Linked DNA regions of Homo sapiens. The gene in region 4 interacts genetically with the main gene of each other region. Each region holds a gene or a part of one and is shown on either strand. Other genes may lie near its edges.

Region 1 (3,675 bases), on a different chromosome or scaffold from region 4:
CTGGAGGGGACCCAGAAAAGGGGTACCACAGGGGGACCAAGCCAGGAGCCCCCGCCCAGTCCTCAGCTCAGGGCTTGGGCAGGAGGGTGGAGCTCTCTAGGAGCTGTGGGGCCGTGCAGGTCCATACAGGGCAGATCCTCAGCCAGCCTGTCAGGGCCGCGGTGCAGCACGCCCGAGGCCTTCAGTCCTAGCGCCGTGGTGAGCCCAGGGTGGGGCTGGGAAGGGGCTAGGGAGCTGGGCCTTCCCAACGGCGTGCGTGACCACCTTGCTTCCCTGGCTGCCCGCCCTGTGCGGATCCCTGACTGGGCCTGGCCTGTCCTTATGTCTTCTAGATGAGACAAGGGGCCTTCCTGGTGAACACAGCCCGGGGTGGCCTGGTGGATGAGAAGGCGCTGGCCCAGGCCCTGAAGGAGGGCCGGATCCGCGGCGCGGCCCTGGATGTGCACGAGTCGGAACCCTTCAGGTGCCCCCACGGCCAGTGCCGCCCCCCTGCTCTTCCCTGTCCACCATCCTGCCGGCCTTGACCTCCAGACGGCGCCTCTGCCAGGCCGGACACTTGCCTGTACTCAGGCCTCTCGCTGGCCAGCAGTGGGGGAGTTTGCCGCCCGCTGCGGGGTGAGGATGGAGCCACGGGCTCTAGGCCTGCCTTGCCTCGGTCCTGTGAGGGGCTGCTCAACCTCCTCAGCCCTTCTTTGGGCAGGGCTCCTGACCAACCAGGAGAGAGTGAGGCCCCAGTGTCTGTGAGTGGTCCCCATGGGCCCTGGCCATGGAGTCATGGCATCCCGTCCAGACCTGCAGCCCCTACAGCACCTTGGGACCCCAGGCAGCCCTGGGTTGGATGTTCAGCCGCAAGAGGAGACACCCCCACAGGGGCAGTATCAGCCTGCAGCTCCTGGGGCTACAGACCCTTTGGCTGGAAGGGGCCAGGCAGCATGTCCCCCCATCAGGGCTCCTCCCACGAGGGACTTGGAGATTAAATCCCTTGGGCTCCCACACCCGCCGCTGTCAGGAGCCCCTGGTGTGTCTGATGGTCCCGGGGCTGTGCTCTTGAGCTCAGCCAGCCTGCCGAGCAGAGCAGGGCCGTGGGGTCTGTGGTTCCCAGGCAGGGCCCCCCACAGGGGGTTCCAGTGCCCAGCCACCTCCCCTCCGTACCCAGCCACAGCACTCAGGCTGCACTGACCATGCCTGTGCTGTTCCCAGCTTTAGCCAGGGCCCTCTGAAGGATGCACCCAACCTCATCTGCACCCCCCATGCTGCATGGTACAGCGAGCAGGCATCCATCGAGATGCGAGAGGAGGCGGCACGGGAGATCCGCAGAGCCATCACAGGTGGGCGTGGGGGCCGCTCGGTCAGGCCTGGGGGTCCCTTCCTGCCAGCCCCAGATGCTCATGGGCTCGCATCCGCCTGGCAGCCAGGCCCATGTTCTGCCAGCTCAGGGCCCGTGGTGCTCTCACTGCACCCCCAGCAGGGACCTCTAAGGCCAAAGTCAAGTTGAGCCCTGGCGTCGTGTCTTACACACAGGACCTGCTGGGAAGTTGCTGGGCTGAGCAGACAGGTCCCTCAGCAAGCTGGGCACGTGCTCTGGGCTGGGGGTCCCCACGCTGCAAGGGTGCCAGTGCCCAGAGAGACAGGACCCTGCCGTGCCTTGGGAGCCCCGGGGCTGAGAGGGAGGAGCACACTGCCAAGAATCCTGCTGCCCGTGTCTTCAACCCAGTGGGCCACGCTCCTGGGGCCCCCTCAGAGCCACAGCTGTTCCTTCCTCCTGCATCTCCCAGGCCGGATCCCAGACAGCCTGAAGAACTGTGTCAACAAGGACCATCTGACAGCCGCCACCCACTGGGCCAGCATGGACCCCGCCGTCGTGCACCCTGAGCTCAATGGGGCTGCCTATAGGTGAGCAGGCCCGCTGGCCCAGAACAGCCTCCAGGAGGGCCCCAGGCTTCCCCTGGATCCCAGCACAGCCCCTGGTGGGAGGGGCGGCGTCTCCACTGACTGACCTGGAGGATCTGGGTAGAATTGGTAAGGCCAACCTCACCTGAAAGGCCCATGAGAACCAGGGCCTCTTGGAAGGAGCCTGGGCTGGGGTGGCCTTCAGGGCTCAGTGGACACAGGAGTGCCATGGGCACGGGGCCTGTGGGAGGAGGGGGCTTTGGGTGAGGCGAAGACCTCATGTTCAAGTCACCTGGAGACACCAGGGCTCCCCTCCCCAGCCCTGAGAAGTAGCTGCCATAGGCAGGAACATCCGTGTAAAGGCCGGGATCCTTACCCTGACTGCTGGTCCTCCTGGAGAGGCCCCCTCGGTGCTGCCGATGCTAGGAGGGCAGGTGGGGCCTGGCCAGGCCGCCTACAGGTGGGCCTCACGGATGGACCCTCTCCCAGCAGGTACCCTCCGGGCGTGGTGGGCGTGGCCCCCACTGGCATCCCAGCTGCTGTGGAAGGTATCGTCCCCAGCGCCATGTCCCTGTCCCACGGCCTGCCCCCTGTGGCCCACCCGCCCCACGCCCCTTCTCCTGGCCAAACCGTCAAGCCCGAGGCGGATAGAGACCACGCCAGTGACCAGTTGTAGCCCGGGAGGAGCTCTCCAGCCTCGGCGCCTGGGCAGAGGGCCCGGAAACCCTCGGACCAGAGTGTGTGGAGGAGGCATCTGTGTGGTGGCCCTGGCACTGCAGAGACTGGTCCGGGCTGTCAGGAGGCGGGAGGGGGCAGCGCTGGGCCTCGTGTCGCTTGTCGTCGTCCGTCCTGTGGGCGCTCTGCCCTGTGTCCTTCGCGTTCCTCGTTAAGCAGAAGAAGTCAGTAGTTATTCTCCCATGAACGTTCTTGTCTGTGTACAGTTTTTAGAACATTACAAAGGATCTGTTTGCTTAGCTGTCAACAAAAAGAAAACCTGAAGGAGCATTTGGAAGTCAATTTGAGGTTTTTTTTTTTGTTTTTTTTTTTTTTGTATGTTGGAACGTGCCCCAGAATGAGGCAGTTGGCAAACTTCTCAGGACAATGAATCCTTCCCGTTTTTCTTTTTATGCCACACAGTGCATTGTTTTTTCTACCTGCTTGTCTTATTTTTAGAATAATTTAGAAAAACAAAACAAAGGCTGTTTTTCCTAATTTTGGCATGAACCCCCCCTTGTTCCAAATGAAGACGGCATCACGAAGCAGCTCCAAAAGGAAAAGCTTGGGCGGTGCCCAGCGTGCCCGCTGCCCATCGACGTCTGTCCTGGGGACGTGGAGGGTGGCAGCGTCCCCGCCTGCACCAGTGCCGTCCTGCTGATGTGGTAGGCTAGCAATATTTTGGTTAAAATCATGTTTGTGACTGTAACCATTTGTATGAATTATTTTAAAGAAATAAAAATCCTGGAAAGAGCCAGCGTGCCCAGCATCTATTCTGGTGACTTTCTCTCATGAGGACACGGGTGAGCCTCAGTCCTGGCTCTGGTGACCTCCACGGCTCAGCTCAGCCTCTCTGAAGTGGGCGGCCTAAGAGAGACCCAGAGACAGTGCAGTGGCAGGTTGGGCAGTGGTCTCTGTGTGTACCGGGCCTGTCCCTCTGCCCACTGGGTCTGTGGGACGCTGTAGGGTCCTGGCTTGGAGGCGGCCTGCCCGCAGTGCCCCAGTGGGAGGGAAGCAGTGTGCCAGCCGGGCCGTTGTGTGGATGATGGTGTGACTGGCTGAGGTCCTGCC
Region 2 (3,675 bases), on a different chromosome or scaffold from region 4:
TCTCTACTAAAAAAAATACAAAAAAATTAGCCGGGTGTGGTGGCGCGCGCCTATAGGCCTGTAGTCCCAGCTACTCGGGAGACTGAGGCAGGAGAAAGGCGTGAACCCGGGAGGCGGAGCTTGCAGTGAGCCGAGATTGCGCCACTGCACTCCAGCCTGGGCGATGGAGTGAGACTCCATCTCAAAAAAAACAGAAAAAGAAAAAATAATTTAGTAACTCATGTAGCTACTCCGCCCTCAACAAGGGGAACATGAACATAAGTCCCTGTTCCTTAGGTGTGGGCTACACAGTGACTTTCTTCCAAAGGGTGCATGCAGCATGGAAAGGGGAAGGGGAGAACAACTTTACAGAGAAGCCTCACACACATCACCTCAGCCAAGTGATCATGGTTGACATCAGTCATGGAAAGGCTTGTGGATTGTATGTACCCTTGACATGATGTGATGAAAATAGCACTTTACCTCTCTGGTCCTCCTTCCCAAAACTTGGCACAGTCTACTTATGAAAAAAACACTGGACACAGCCAGGCGTGTTAGCTCACGCATGTAATCCCACCACTTTGGGAAGCTGAGGTGAGCAGATCGCTTGAGCTCAGGAGTTTGAGACCAGCCTGGACATCATGGTGAAACCTTGTCTCTACAAAAATTAGCCAGGCGTGGTGGTGCATTTCTGTAGTCCCAGCTACTTGGGAGGCTGAGGAGAATGGCTTGAGCCGAGATTGCACCACTGCACTCCAGCCTGGCTGACAGAGCAAGACTCTGTTAAAAAGAGAAAAATACTGGACAAATCCCAGTTGAGAAGAGATTCTCTTTATTTTTTATTATTTTTTTTGAGACGGAGTCTCATTCTGTCTCCAGCCCAGGCTGGAGCACAGTGACACGATGTTGGCTCACTGCAACCTCTGCCTCCTGGTTCAAGCGATTCTTGTGCCTCAGCCTCCTGAGTAGCTGAGATTACAGGTGCGTACCACCATGCCTGGCTAATTTTTGTATTTTTAATAGAGATGAGGCTTCACCATGTTAGCCAGGCTGGTCTCGAACTCCTGACTTCAAGTGATCCACCCACCTCGGCCTCCCAAAGTGCTGGGATTACAGGCGTGAGTCACCGCGCCTGGCCGAGATCCTCTTTAGATGCTTGCCCAGCACTCCTCAAAACTGTCAAGGTCATCAAAAACAATAAAAGTCTGAGAAACTGGCACAGCAAGAGGAGCCTAAAGAGACAATGAATATAGGTAACATGGGATCCTGGAACAGCAAAAGGACATCAGGTAAAAATCTAAGGAAATCTGAATAAAGGATGGACTTTAATGTAAAATACGTACTAACATAAGATGTTAATAACAGGGAAAACTATGTGTGAGGGATTGTGAGAAAACTCTGTACTATCTGCGTAACTTTTCTAAAAGTATTCTGAAAGAATAAGTTTATTAAGCCTCGGCAACATAGGGAGACCCCGTCTCTACAAAAAAATCAAAAATTGCCCAGGCACAGTGGCTCACACCTGTAATCCCAGCACTTTCAGAGGCCAAGGCAGGCAGACCACAAAGTCAAGAGATCAAGACCATCCTGGCCAACATGGCGAAACCCCGTCTCTACTAAAAATATAAAAATTAGCTGGGCATGGTGGCGTACGCCTGTAGTCCCAGCTACTCGGGAGGCTGAGGCAGGAGAATCACTTGAACCCAGGAGACGGAGGTTGCAGTGAGCCAAGATGGCATCACTGCACTCCAGCCTGGGAAACAGAGCAAGACTCCATTTCAAAAGAAAAAAAAAAAAGGAGGCCAAGGTAGGCGGATCACGAGGTCAGGAGATGGAGACCATCCTGGTTAACATGGTGAAACTCTGCCTCTACTAAAAGTACAAAAAATTAGCCAAGCGTGGTGGCAGGAGCCTGTAGTCCCAGCTACTCGAGAGGCTGAGGCAGGAGAATGGCATGAACCCGGGAGCTTGCAGTGAGCCGAGATCGTACCACTGCACTCCAGCCTGGGCGACAAGGCAAGACTTCGTCAAGAAAGAAAGAAAGAAAGACAGAAAGAAAGACAGAAAGACAGAAAGAAAGACAGAAAAAGAAAGAAAGAAAGAAAAAGAAAGAAAGAAAGAAAGAAAGAAGGAAAGACAGAAAGAAAGAAAGAAACAGAAAGAAAGAAAGAAAGAAAGAGAGAGAGAGAGAGAGAGAGAGAGAAAGAAAGAAAGACCAGCCTCAAGGTGAGCAGAGGATATCCAAGTACTGCAGGCACAGGACCAGGGAATGTTAAAGACCCCATCTGTGGAATACACATGTGAGGGCTGCTCATACCACTGGTCTGAACAGCTGCTGCCACCACTTTTTTAAGCCACCTTCACTCAGGAACGAGCCTTGTGCAGACATACAGAACAGTATCCACAGGCAGAGTCAAATTTGCTTCCACTGATCCTTGCTAAGTACTGGTCTGGGGTCGGTGCTGCCTCACCACACACAACTGCAGAAGCACGGTCGTTCTGTCCTGCCATCAGATACACACACGGCAGAAGCCAGTCAGCCGGACTGTGGCTAGTCAGGGCCGCGCCCTCATTGTCCCATTAAACCCTTCACCAGAAATGGAGATTTGGAGAGTCTTAACTTCTGGAAACTGAGTTTGTGACTTGCTTCCCATCATCCGTACTGTAACATTGATCCTATTGACCTGTTTGCTCTCCCATTTGTCTGTGAGCAACTTTCTGGGGGATGGACCAAAGATATGGCTCAAGCTGTGGGATCAGATGGATTTAAGTTTGAATCATAGGTTCACGACATCCAAAGTGTGTGAAGAAAGGAAGGGAAGTGTGTGTTAAAAGAAGTGGGCGAGGGCCAGGCATGGTGGCTTACACCTGTAATCCCAGCACTTTGGGAGGCCGAGGCGGGTGGATCACCTGAGGTTGGGAGTTCGAGACCAGCCTGACCAACATGGAGAAACCCCATCTCTAATAAAAATACAAAAAATTAGCCGGCCGTGGTGGCACATGCCTGTAATCCCTGCTACTTGGGAAGCTGAGGCAGGAGAATCTCTTTAACTCGGGAGGCGGAGGTTGTGGTGAGCTGAGATTGTGCCATTGCACTCTAGCCTGGGCAACAAGAGCAAAACTCTGTCTCAAAAACAAACAAAAAAAAAGAAGTGGGCAAGGCTGGGCACAGTGGCTCATGCCTGTAGTCCCAGCACTGGGAGGCTGAGGCAGGCAGATCATGAGGTCAGGAGTTTGAGATCAGCCTGGCCAACATGGTGAAATCCGTCTCTACTAAAAATACAAAACTAGATGGGCGTGGTGGTACACACCTGTAATCCCAGGTACTAGGGAGGCTGAAGCAGGAGAATCACTTGAACCCAGGAGGCGGAGGTTACAGTGAGCAAGATCGTACCATTGCACTCCAGCCTGGGTGAGAGGTCAAGACTCCATCTCAAAAAAAAAAAAAAAAAAAAAAAGAAGTGGGCAGGTGTTTGGTGTTTGCTTTAAGGGCAGGTTTGAATGTCTGCCCTCTCCTTTAACAACTTCAGTAGGGAGCCTACTATGCTGAGTGCCATGCCAGGTCCTAAACACACAAAGATCAAACAGGACCCGATCTGTGCCCCTAAAGGGCTCACCCACCAGAGAATGAGGCAAATAAGGAACAATGAGATAGCAGTTGAGAAGACAGCCCATGTAGGAGACAAGCCCTCAGCC
Region 3 (3,675 bases), on a different chromosome or scaffold from region 4:
CCACTGATAAAGATTCAAGAATCCGAGCCCCAAGGCAAAGCACCAGTACTTTTTCCTATAATCGGATTACAGCAGGCACCCAACTCCAGGGCAGGGATCTAGTCATTCTGGAGCCACCAGCACCAACCACGATGTCTGCCACTCAGGGCAGGGGCTGAAACAGCATGTGACCATCAGACAGAAAGCAACACCTTAGCGCCAGCAAGGGGACTCCAGTACCTCTGCTGAAATCTTTGGGATCCAGCGACAGACTGTAGCCGGGCAGCGTTTCCAGGAGGAGTTTGTAGCAGGCCCTCCACCCAGGCTCCGCGATGCTTGGGGCCACGCACTGCATGGCGGCCACGCGCTTGAAGAACGCAGACTTGCGATGGAAGCCGATCAGCTCATAGAGCTCGGAGAGGATGCTGTAGCGCTGAATTTTCTCTTCCTCAGAAAGCTGAAGCACAGAGAGAAAGTAAAAAGCTTTTGAAAGAAACGTATAAGTGAAAAAAGAAGCACACATTAAAAATGTCTCTTCATAAAACAAAGACCTGAGGAGAATCGAGGAGAATCAAGGAGAGGGAAAGCCTGGTGAGCAGCGCATGGCGCAGGCCCCAGGTGGCTTCAGACCTTCCCCAGCCACAGCTGCAGGTGCAGCCCATCTTCCTGCTGATAAAGCCCAGATTCTCTGCTACAAAGGTACCTGCTACAAATCTGAGACCTCTACTTTAAGTTCCTTCACAAAAGAAAAGAAAAGGAACAAGAGTTCATCTACACAACAGGATTTTATCAAGGTCTCTCATCAAACACAAAAATTCTTAAAACACAAGAAGACACAGAATCATGTAACTGGGTAATGAATTATTAACAATACCACTGATATCAGACTTAAGACTTCAGGGTTTACAAAAGTTTTCTTTCATCCAAGACCCAACTGAATCCTCCCAACAACCCTGTAGTGTAGCAATCATAACTTCTGTTTCTTTTCTTTTTTTTTTGAGACGGAGTCTCACTCTGTCACTCAGGCTGGAGTGCAGTGGTACGATCTTGGCTCACTGCAACCTCCACCTCCCGGGTTCAAGAGATTCTCCTGCCTCATCCTCCAGTGTAGCTGAGATTACAAGCACCCACCCCCATGCTGGCTAATTTTTGTACTTTCAGTAGAGACGGGATTTCACCATGTTAACCAGGCTGGTCTCGAACTCCTGACCTCAGGTGATCTGCCTGCCTCAGTCTCCCAAAGTGCTGGGATTACAGGTGTGAGCCACCACGCCCAGCCAACAACTTCTGTTTCTTCAGCACCTACTGTATGGCAGCAGACTTAACGTACCTGATTTACTCAATACAAGCATCCTGTGAGCTGGCAAATAAGGACATTAACAGCTCAGGGACACATTAATCACCTGTGCAAAATCACACAGCCAAGAAGTATCAGGGACAAGACCTGACTCTGGGCCTGGGCCCTGCCCACTGCACAGCGCCTTCAGAGAAGAAGGAAGGCAGAGCCCACTCTGCTGCTCCAGGAGCACTGTTAAGGAAGCGCTTCTCTCCCTCCTCTGCCCTGGACGATGAATGTTTCCCTGATGTTTCTGTGAGTACAGAGCCTTAGCTTGAACGCCCTTCCAACTTGGGCCTCCAAACCCTCCCTCCATCCCCTCTCCTCCGCGCTCACTGCCATGGCCTCGATGGGGCCCTCGTCAGCCCTCATCTGGAAGAGGAATCGGCATTGTCTTCCTACCACCTCTCGACCTTCCTTCACCTGTCCACACACCCCTGCCAGACTTAGGTTCCTGAGACATGGCTCAGAGCCCATCACCCGAGCCACGGTTTGAATGTTTGTGCCTCCCCAAAATTCACATGTTGAAAGCCTAGCCCCCAAGGTGATGGAATTAGGAGGTGGGGACTTTAAAAAGTGATTGGGTCAGGGGGTGAAGCACTCACAAATGGAATTAGTGCCCTTATAAGAAGAGACCCTAAAGAGCTAGCTCACCTGTTGCACCATGTGAGAACACAGAGAAAAGACGGCGGTCTATGAACAAGCAAGTGGGCCCTCCCCAGACACCAAACATGCTGGCACCTGGATCATGGACTTCTAGCCTCTAGAACTGTGCACAATACATTTCTATTGTTTATCAGCCACCCAGTCTGTGGCATTTTGTGACAGCAGCCTCACCGGACTAAGACAATCCCCATCTTGAAACCACTAGACCCCTTCAGGACTGTAAAATGGAGCCCAAATGCCTTCACGGGCATGCCAGGCCCTCCTCAGCCCCAACCTGCTCTGGAAATTCGAGGCCCCACTGCCTACCTATGACCTCACCAGACTGAACAACTTTAACTCATTTGTTTTCTCATTCTGTCAACACATATTTACTGAACCCCTACTCTGGTGCCAGCCACTCTTGTGGCAGAGGATACAGCAGTGAGCAAAACAAGCTAAGACTCCTACCCCTGGGGGCCTCCATGCTAATGACAGGCTAGTCCCCTGGCTTAGAATCAGTGGGGAGGATGACAATAAATCAATGAAAAAATAAACAAAATAGCTGCTCTAAGTCCAATGAAATACTCTTTGACATAGAATCATGGGTGGAAGCGTATGAGGCAGGCTGTACTAGGTGACGCCGCCGGGGCACACAGGCTCTCTGCTCCTGCAATGCCTCCACAGCCACATCTGGCTCTCCCTTTGGACACTCGGTTCCAATGCCACCCTCTCCAAGAAGCTGGTCCTCATGCCCTTCAGCGGGAAGCTGCTGCTTCTTTCCCTAAATTCTCCTAACCATGCTGGACTCCATAATGTCCTTTCTCTGTGTCTCCCACACAATTTACCTACATATCGGATCTCTGCCAGCCCCACTTTTCCTACAGTGAAAGGTCATGCCGACGCCGACGATGTGTGAGAATCCCTGTTGCTCCACCTGCTCACCAGCATATGAGGATATCACCTGCTCACCAGCATATGAGGATATCACCTGCTCACCAGCATATGAGGATATCAGTCTTTTTTATTTTAGACGTTGTGGTGGCTTTAACTTCCATTTCCCTGAAAACTAATGATGTTGAACCTTTTTCATATGATCACTGGCCACTGGTATATCTTCCTTTGTGAAGCGCTTGTTCAAATCTTCTGACAGTTTTTAAAATTAGATCGTTTGTTTTATTACTGAGTCGTACGAGTTCTGTATATATTCTGAATGCAAGTCCTTAGTTATATGTGTTTTGCAAATATTTCCTCCCGGTCTGTTGCCGATTTATTTCCCTAAGGGAGTGTTCATAAGCAAAAGCATTTCTCTGTGATGTAGCTCAATCTATCAGCTTTTTCTTCTATGGTTAGTGCCTTCTATGTCCTCATCTGAGAAAAATCTTTGCCCGAGGTCACAAAGATATCCTATGTTTTCATCTAGAAGTTGTTGTCTAGGTCTATGGTCCGTGAATATTCAAATTTGAGTAGGACATGGCCTGTCCCTTTCCAGGAGTGTGCAGTACAGCAGCGAACAGAAGCCCCAGTGCTGGAGGACAGCAGCCAGGGACGGGGTGGAAGAGGACTGTAAAGAGGAGGCAGGGGTTGGCCGGGCGCAGTGGCGCACACCTGTAATCCCAGCACTTTGGGAGGCCGAGGCAGGCAGATCACCTGAGGTTGGGAGTTCGAGACCAGCCTGACCAACATGGAGAAACCCCGTCTCTACTAAAAAATACAAA
Region 4 (3,675 bases):
CACATCAGTGATTTATTAAGAATTGTAATGTTACAAAATAAGCACCATTTATTTACAACCTATGAATTATAAAAATTAAATGTAAATACAATATGCATTCATTATAGAAAAACTGGAAAATATAATTTTTAAAGCTTAAAGAGTATTAGGAGCATAAGGCTTTAAAAAAATTCTAAGTGATTTCACCATAAACAATATCAACAAAATATTAACTTTGGAAACTCAGTAAGTGTTTTTTGTTTTTTTTTTGAGACAGGCTTACTCTGTCACCCAGGCTGGAGTGTAGTGGTGCGATCTCGGCTCACTGCAACCTCTATCTCCCAGGTTCAAGAGATTCTCCTGCCTCAGCCTCCTGAGTAGTTGGGATTACAGGAATGCACCACCATGCCTGGTTATTTTTTTTTTTTTTGTATTTTTAGTAGAGACGGGGTTTCACCATGTTGGCCAGGCTGGTCCCTAACTCCTGACCTCGAGTGATCTGCCTACCTTGGCCTCCCAAAGTGCTGGGATTACAGGCATGAGCCACCATGCCCGGCCAAGTGTTTCTTCAAGTAATATTAATTCTGTGTAGAAATTACAAAAATGTCAGAAAACATATACGTTTATATAATTCCAATCAAAAGTAAGATATTATTTTTGGAACATGACAGAATGTGTCTAAAGTTTATTTAGAGAAACAAATAAATGAAAATAAGCTAAGGAAATTAACGGAGAAAAAAGAGGAAGAACTGAATTTACTACATATTATAACATATTTAAGTCCATAATCAACTAATTGACTTATTAATATAAGACCATACCGATATATTAGTTTTTCAAAAAAAAGATAGGATATACTTATATAAAGAAATTGCTGGGAGTGGCCAGGCATGGTGGCTCACGCCTGTAATCCCAGCACTTTGGGAGGCCAAGGCGGGCGGATCACGAGGTCAAGAGATTGAGACTATCCTGGCTAACACGGTGAAACCCCGTCTCTACTAAAAATACAAAAAATTAGCTGGGCGTGGTGGCGGGTGCCTGTAGTCCCAGTTACTCGGCAGGCTGAGGCAGGAGAATGGCATGAAGCCGGGAGGCGGAGGTTGCAGTGAGCCGAGATTGCGGCACTGTACTCCAGCCTGGGCGACAGAGCAAGACTCCGTCTCAAAAAAAAAAAAAAAAAAAAAAAAAACGCTGGGAGAGATATTTTAAAAAACAACCTCTTGACAAAAAAAAATCAATTAAAGGATTAGAAGTTAAAAAAATCAATTAGCAAAAGGATTATTCATTATAAGGTGCAAAGACATGGTTAGCTATCTGGGAAAATAAAATTTAACTAAAAAATTCACTTTAAATATAAATAGACAAAAATTAAGCCACAGAAAAGTAAAAAAAAAGAAATTGAATATTTATTATAGTCTAATGAGTAAACACTCTATAATTTTTTTAAAAATCTTTTTCAGTTACTTCTAAAGACTGTCGTTTGACCACATCAAAATAAAAACAAAAACATAAAATTAAAAAATCATAAAAACTTGTAAAATTTTTCAGAAAATGAATCACAGAGGGCTAGTTCATTATTAAAAGTATTCCTTCAAATCTGGCTGGGCACAGTGGCTCATGCCTGTAATCCCAGCACTTTGGGAGGCCGAGGCGGGCGGATCACGAGGTCAGGAGATCGAGACCACGGTGAAACTCCGTCTCTACTAAAAATAAAAAAAATTAGCCTAGCATGGTGGCGGGCGCCTGTAGTCCCAGCTACTCGCAGAGGCTGAGGCAGGAGAATGGCGTGAACCCGGGAGGCGGAGCTTGCAGTGAGCTGAGATCGCCCACTGCACTCCAGCCTGGGCAACAGAGCAAGACCCCGCCTCAAAAAAAAAAAAATTCCTTCAAATCAAAGCCAAAATACTATAAAGACTATAGACCTACATGGTCAATTCAGAATATAAGTAATGTTCTAGCATATGTAAAAATGTACCACCCAACTACTAATTAACCAACTATGGCATTCATATCAAATTTAGTGGCTTTCTCATTCTGGTTTCAGCTTAAATGTCATCTTTTTCAGAAAAAAAGTAACAGGTCATTCTGTTTCACTCATGGTACCTTGTATTTATCATGCAGTATATTTATTTGTTTATAGCACTCCTTTCCAAACTCCATGAGGTCTAGGCTCTTATGTACTACGTTCAGTTTTGTAGCATCCATATTTGGTGTAAGTTCTGCTATTCAGATCTTCCCTGAATAAAATAATTAGCACTTCATGAAAGTCCCTAAATAACTGACATTATTTTGAAAGTGTAAGTTTCAGAAACTGAAGGCAATTAAAAACCTGCTATATTAAGCAGCTGGCTTTTGAAATAGTCAACAAATGCTACCCTTAAAATTTCTGAAGTTACTCTGTATAGCTAGCATTTACTGAGCATTTACTAGCGCCAGGCATTATGCTAAATATTTTACAAGCTGAACACATTTAATTCTCATGAGTACTCTCTAAGTTGGTATTACATTAACCCCAATATACAGATAGGGCATTGACAATACCTGCAGAGGGTAATTTGCATACAAAGGATTATATTAGTAGATAAGTGGTAGAATCTAGATTTGAACCCTGGTGATTTCACTCTGTTGAAAAATAATTCTCTATAATAATTATTAATTATAAGCCTGGAGCCATAAACCTGGAATGTCATGCCTTACCAGAAATACCCCATGGGAATTCAAAGTAGGAATGTATTCCAAAGAGTATTAATCAGCTACAGATGAATATGGGGAGGCGTTTCCAACCTTCACTCTTATTTTTAACTACGAAAACAGAGAAAAAGGTGCCCTGAAAACAGATAAAAAGGTGCCCTGAAAGTGATACACAGGAGGCAGTTTCTCCCAATTTAAACAGCTAAAATCACTAGACAGGGTCTCATTTTGTTACCCAGGTTGGACTACAGTGGCACGATCATGGCTGACTGCAGCCTTGACCTCCTGAGCTCAAGTGAACCTCCTGCCTCAGACCCACCCCCTACCCCCGCCCACCAAGAGGCTGCGACTACTGTCGCATGCCACCATGCCCGGTTAATTTTTGTAGTTTTTGTAGAGACGGAGTTTCACCATGTTGCCCAGGCTGGTAAGTTCACTTTTAGTACCAGTTGGTGTTTTCTATTTCTTCCCTATTATTTTTTTCATTTCATTAGAAAACAAATCTGAATAAAGAGAAAATACAGTCTCAAGGGAATCCTGAAACATTCCTTTTTTTTTTTTCTTAGTGTCCTGGAGTTCACCCAAACATGTAGCTAACATATTTGCTTATTATAGGTTCCAATTTCTATTATAAAGAAAAGTCCTATAAAGCTTAGTTTTTCATGATTCCTGTGGTTTAGCAGGGGATGAGATGGTGGGTAAAAAATGATCCTCCATTAAAAATAAAGTGATCCCAACTTGGTATTAAAAGCAACTTTTTTCTTCATATTTTCAGATTATGGCCTTTGCAGCAACGTAGATGCAACTGGAGGCCATTATCCTAAGCCAATTTATGCAGGAACAGAAAATCAAATACCACATATTCTCATAAGTGAGAGATAAACAATGAGTATACATGGACACAAAAAACAGAACAATAGACACTGAGGCCTATTTGAGGGTAGAAGGTGGCAGGGGGTGAGGACTAAAAAACTACCTATTGGGTATTATCCTGATTACATGGGT

Evidence for each region. A genetic interaction does not mean that the proteins touch.
Region 1: changes in TRAPPC13 (region 4) and CTBP1 together harm fitness more than expected from each alone (negative genetic interaction), as found in Homo sapiens cells (one large-scale study listed by BioGRID).
Region 2: changes in TRAPPC13 (region 4) and RAB5C together harm fitness more than expected from each alone (negative genetic interaction), as found in Homo sapiens cells (one large-scale study listed by BioGRID).
Region 3: changes in TRAPPC13 (region 4) and TRAPPC9 together harm fitness more than expected from each alone (negative genetic interaction), as found in Homo sapiens cells (one large-scale study listed by BioGRID).

What each region holds. Positions count from the first base shown.
Region 1 is NC_000004.12:1,211,131-1,214,805, reverse strand, and holds the end of CTBP1 (C-terminal-binding protein 1), read left to right. Parts: intron 1-332; coding exon 333-463; intron 464-1,200; coding exon 1,201-1,328; intron 1,329-1,775; coding exon 1,776-1,893; intron 1,894-2,035; exon of another isoform or gene 2,036-2,131; intron 2,132-2,266; exon of another isoform or gene 2,267-2,379; coding exon of another isoform or gene 2,380-2,382; coding exon 2,383-2,566; 3' UTR 2,567-3,361; downstream 3,362-3,675. UniProt on the Homo sapiens protein: Corepressor targeting diverse transcription regulators such as GLIS2 or BCL6. Has dehydrogenase activity. Involved in controlling the equilibrium between tubular and stacked structures in the Golgi complex.
Region 2 is NC_000017.11:42,144,990-42,148,664, forward strand, and holds part of RAB5C (ras-related protein Rab-5C), read right to left. Parts: intron 1-3,675. UniProt on the Homo sapiens protein: The small GTPases Rab are key regulators of intracellular membrane trafficking, from the formation of transport vesicles to their fusion with membranes.
Region 3 is NC_000008.11:140,370,745-140,374,419, forward strand, and holds part of TRAPPC9 (trafficking protein particle complex subunit 9), read right to left. Parts: intron 437-3,675; coding exon 220-436; intron 1-219. UniProt on the Homo sapiens protein: Functions as an activator of NF-kappa-B through increased phosphorylation of the IKK complex. May function in neuronal cells differentiation. May play a role in vesicular transport from endoplasmic reticulum to Golgi.
Region 4 is NC_000005.10:65,631,471-65,635,145, reverse strand, and holds part of TRAPPC13 (trafficking protein particle complex subunit 13), read right to left. Parts: intron 1-3,675.